Linked DNA regions of Homo sapiens: region 1 is linked to region 2. A link means that fine-mapping ties the variant in region 2 to the expression of a gene that starts in the linked region. Tissue or cell type: skeletal muscle. Region 2 holds a variant in brackets; the other region holds the start of a gene. All regions are shown on one strand. Distances are between the middles of the regions.

The links. PIP is the estimated chance that this variant, and not a neighbour inherited with it, causes the effect.
Region 1: MAK16 starts here. The variant in region 2 is fine-mapped to the expression of MAK16 in skeletal muscle (FUSION, PIP 0.95).

What each region holds. Positions count from the first base shown.
Region 1 is chr8:33,484,193-33,486,813 of GRCh38, forward strand. It overlaps MAK16 (MAK16 homolog), which reads left to right and starts at 990. Exons shown (of 10, transcript NM_032509.4): 1 at 990-1,029. The coding sequence starts at 1,015. RefSeq lists enhancers at 146-782, 770-919 and silencers at 410-599, 810-997.
Region 2 is chr8:33,449,365-33,452,127 of GRCh38, forward strand. The region is part of intron 3 of POFUT3 (protein O-fucosyltransferase 3); the gene reads right to left. Among named protein-coding and RNA genes, the nearest start is that of POFUT3, 22 kb to the right of the region's middle. The variant A/ATGTGTG (reference allele first, on the strand shown) is at 1,702.

The DNA of each region.
Region 1 (2,621 bases), 35 kb after region 2:
GCGATTCTCCTGCCTCAGCCTCCCAAGTAGCTGGGATTACAGGCACCTGCTACCACGCCCGACTAATTTTTGTATTTTTAGTAGAGACGGGATTTCACTATGTTGGCCAGGCTGGTCTGGAACTCGCCCGCCTAGGCCGCCCAAAGTGCTGAGGTACAGGCGAGAGCCACCGCGCCCGGCCCGGCCGACAGTCTTTCTTCTATAATACGATACAAACTAGTAAAGATTTTCTTTTTCCCCTGGCGGAAAAGAGCTGTTAGGCTTCCAGATTTGTTTTTGTGGGTTATTAGACCTCTACTTTTCTTCTTGGTATTTTCCCTCCCTTATCAACTTTGTTTGTTGTCTCAAATAGGCAATGAGGAAGACACAGGTGTTTATTATTATTGGAATGCTCTTTCCATTTGGTCAGTGGTTTCTCAAAGCAGGAGGAATTCAAGTTCTGAGTTTCTAAAGTCAGGACCCGGTGCCGCACCCAACGTGGGCGTGGGGAGTGGCTAAGTCAGGGTCTGAGGGGCAGGGCCGGGGCCTGGCTGCGAGCTGGGGCCGGGGGACTCGGAGGAGCGGGGACCCAGCCCCGCCGCGCCGCCTGCAGCTTTCCCCAGCCTCCTCCCAGCAGAGGGGAGGCCCGACAGGGAGGGGTCCCATCCTCATGAACGGTCACAAACAGGGCGCTAGGGAAGCACGCCCGACCCCCGCGGTCCCCGCGCTCCAGGATTCGGCAGACTGCGCGCGTCCTGCCTCCCGCGGATCGCACTGGGTCCCAACAGGGTTCCCAGCTCCAGGCTGCGCCCATGAACAAGCCCAGCATTGCGGACGGGCGCGCGCAGACGCCAGCGTGGTGAAGACGCGGGGGCGCGCGCGCGGCGACGAGACTGCCAGGGGACGCTTCGCAACACCGAGAGTCTCAGCGTTTCTCGAGATAGGTGAGGCTGCGCGTTCCGGAACTGGTTTCCCGGAAGGAGCATGTCTGCGCCCGCGATCCGACCGGAAGTTGCACGCTGAGCCGCGGACACCATGCAGTCGGATGATGTGAGTCTCCTCCGGTTGTTCTTACACCCGGGGTTTGCGCAGGGAATTTTGCCCATTTTCGGACACTTAGAAAACGCGTACGCAGCGGGTCTGTTGCCTCGTGCCGCTCTGGATGTGAGGCTTCCGGAACCCCGATTTTCCAACATAGGTTCTCACGCGTGTCTAGCAGGGGTTTACTGCCCGCTGCCCCGGCCGGGTTGTGAGCACAGGACTCCGTCACCTCAGCCCATGGGGTCGATGTGTCCCGTCCTTCGTGCCTACCAATGCAGGACGTCGCGTCATGCTGTCAGCTGTCAGCTGTCAGCTCCGGACTTGGGGTGGGGGGCGGCCCGGGATTTGGCGAAGCTGACTCCAAGTTTAAGCGTCCTTCTCATCCATGTGCGCGTTACTCTTCCATCTGCGTTTCCTGTGTAGGCTTTTCTTTACATTTGCTCTACTTCTGCCTAAGTCATAATTTCGGAAGTATCCTAGATTCATTCATTGAGTTTTTTGTTGGAGAAATAACAGTGTGCTTACAGTGTGCCAGGCATTGTGGTAATTATTGAGGATTTGGTTAACCAGAAAAAATGTCCCACCTCTCCTGGAACACTGATGGGGGAGACACAGTAAACAAGTGAACAAATAAGTTAACAATTACACTATATAATCATACTATGAAAGAAAGACCAGAGATGATGAAGGACACTTCAGATAGGGTTACTCAGGGAAGGTTTCTCTGAACAGAAGATGTTTGAGTTGAGATCTAAAAGATAAGAATAAGCCAGTCACTGAGGAGCTGAGGAAAAAGCAATCCAGGCAGTAGGAACAGTAAAGTACAAAGAGTTGAAGATATGAGAGAATGAATATAAGGGTCATCAAAGTGACAATGTAAGACAGGTAATGAAATTAGATATGCTTGCCAGGGCGAGGTCATGCAGAATCTTGTAGGAAGTGTTTTTTAGGCCTTTTAATGATCTATGTTTGTGAAAAGTTGTCTAGTTGCTGTGTGAAGGACTTTTGGAGGGAAAAAATGAAAGCAAGGAGACTAGGGTATGACAAAGGTTGCTTCAAGCCAGACACAGTGGCTCATGCCTGTAATCCCAACGCTTTGGGAGGCTGGGGCTGGAGGATCGCTTGAGGCCAGGAGTTCGATTCCAGCCTAGGCAATAAAGTGAGACTCCATCTCTACAAAAAATAAAAAATTAGCTGGGCGCGGTGGTGTTCGCCTGAGGTCCCAGTTACTTCGAAGGCTGAGGCAGAAGGACTACTTGAGCCGAAAAGTCCGAGGCTGCAGTGAGCTATGATGGCACCACTGCACTCCAGCCTGGGTGACAGAGAGACCCTATCTCTAAAGTAAATAAATTTTTTTAAAAACGAAAGTGGCTTCGCCTAAGGTAGTAATTTAATGGTGGAGATGAAAAGAAATTGATGAATTTGAGACCTTTTACGTCAGTATAATTGACAAGACTTTGGTGATGGATTAAGTGAAGAAGAAAAGGAAGAAATCAAAGGATTTGGGATATAAATACATAGTTAAATGGTGATTTTATTTATTGAAGTGGGGGAACTCTAGGGAAGACTGTTCTTACGAGGGATGTGGAATTGAGAACTCC
Region 2 (2,763 bases):
CTGCAACTTTCTCCTCCCAGGTTTAAGCGATTCTTGTGCCTCAGCCTACTGAGTAGCTGGGATTACAGGCACCCATGACCATACCTGGCTAATTTTTGTATCTTTAGTAGAAGCAGGGTTTCACCATGTTAACCAGGCTGGTCTCAAACTCCTGACCTCAGGTGATCTGCCCACCCCAGCCTTGCAAAGTGCTGGGATTACAGGCGTGAGCCGCCGCGTCTGGCCTGAGTTGACTTTTAAAAGGTGGTTTTAACTCCAGGGACTGACTCCTCAACACCATCCTATGATGTGATGGAAAAATCTTAAGCCAACATTGAAGGTTCTCCAAGCTCTGGTCCCAATATGTCCTTCAATCTTTATCTTTCCCTTACCCAGAACTAAGCTATAGCCAACCACTCTGCTTGATGTACCTCAGATATTACTTGTAATTGTTTTCCTCCATGCCTCCATTCATGCTGTTCTTCATACTGAAATATCCTCCAATCTCAACGTTATCCAACCCCAATATCCTTCAAGGCCCACTTCAAATTCAAATTTCTTACTTTTTAAAGGAGGGGTTATGAAGCTTTTCTTTTTTTTTTTTTTTTTTTTGAGACAGGGTCTCACTCTGCCTCCCAGGCTGGAGTGCAGTGGTGCAATCTCGGCTCACTGCAACCTCCACCTCCCAAGTTCAAGTGATTCTCTTGCCTCAGCCTCCCAAGTAGCTGGGATTATAGGCATGATGCATGACCACGCCCAGCTATTTTTAGTATTTTTAGTAGAGACGGGGTTTCACCATGTTGGCCAGGCTGGTCTTGAACTCCTGACTTCAGGTGATCCACTTGCCTTGGCCTCCCAAAGTGCTGGGATTACAGGCATGAGCCATTGTGCCCGGCCTATGAAGCCTTTCTTGATCCTTCCAATAGTAGGTGCTCTCTCCTGTCTTTGAAACCCCACAAAGACTTGTTGGCTTTTCTCTCGTGGTACACGTACCATTTGCCCCTGCATTACAGTTGGGTCATATCTTTTTCTCAAGATAATAATCTTTGACATCAGAAACTATATTATTCATCTATATTGCCAAATAAATGGAAGGTATTCAGTAGATTATTCTGACAGGACAAATACGAAAAGGACAATCTAGGACATAGAACTATATGAACAATGGTGCTAAGTTAGGAATATTTCTGACTTATGCCTCAAATGGGGACTATTCCAGTTTGACTTTTGAATGTAAGGTTTAGTTGGTAGAATCAGAGGCGTTGAGCTTGGAAGGTAGGTTGGAGTCAGATTACACAGAGCCTTGAATGCCAAGGTAATAAACAGCATAGATTCGGTTCTCCATGAGAGTCACTGATAGTTTTGGGCACTGGAGAGTAACAGGATCTGAGGTATAGAAGGTCAAACCAGAAGTCTCCTTGGAATTTGGTTGGAGATTAAGTCCATCCCAGACAGAAAAACCAACTCTTAAGTGTACTGACAAAATTAAGTGCATGACTCTGTAGATCTGTGAGTCCCAAAAAAGTCACCAAGTTAAAGACTGTTTTGTAGGCTTCCTGGCAACCAGACATTTACGTTCCCACTTCAGTAAAAGGAGACAGACCCACACCAAAGCAGTTATTACTAAATTTCCAAACTGGTGAAACAGAGAAGATTCTATATGCTTCCAGAGAAGGGAGAGAGGAGCAAAAAAAAAAAGTACAGTACACACAAAGGAGGTGT[A/ATGTGTG]TGTGTGTGTGTGTGTGTGTGTGTGTACACATACATGTACATACATACAGATTGAGTATCTCTTAACAGAAATGCTTGGGACCAGGAGTTTTTTAGATTTTGGATTTTTTTTTAATTTGGAACACCTGAATTATACCATTGAGAATCCCAAATATGAAATTCTGAAATCCAAAATGTTCCAATAAGCACTTCCTTTGAACATCACGTTGGTGCTCAGAAAGTTTTGGATTCGGGGGCATTTCAGATTTCAAATTTTTCAGATTTAGGATGCTCAATCTGTATATGTATATATAAATTACAGTATGTGTATGTATGTAAGTGTATGTATGTATATACATGTGTACATGTATACATGTGTGTATATACGTGTGTATATATGTGCATGTGTATATGTGTATGTATATGTGTGTGTATATGCATATATGCATATATGTAGATGTATATGTGTGTACATATGTATATGCATATGCATATGTATGCATAAATGTGTATGTATGTGTATATATGTATGTGTGTACATATGTGTATGTGTGTGTGCATGTGTATATGTGTATATATGTGTGTATACGTGTATATGTGTATGAACATATATATACATATATGTATATTGTATTAGTCCATTCTCATACTGCTATGAAGAAATACCCAAGACTGGATAATTTATAAAGGAAAGAGGTTTAATTGACTCACAGTTCTGCATTGCTTGGGAGGCCTCAGGAAATTTACAATCATGGCAGAAGGCAACGGAGAAACAGGCACTTTCTTCACAGGGCAGCAGGATGGAGTGAGTGCCAGCAGGGGAAATGCCAGATGCTTATAAAACCATCAGATCTCATTAGACTCACTCACTATCATGAGAACAGCATGGGGGAACAGCCCGATGATCCAGTTACCTCCACCTGGTCCCACCCTTGACACATCGGGATTATGGGGATTACAATTCAAGATGAGATTTTGGGTGGGGACACAGCCAAACCATATCAGTATATACGTGTGTATATATGCATGTATATATGTGTATGTATATGTATATATATATGTGTGTGTGTATATATATGTGTA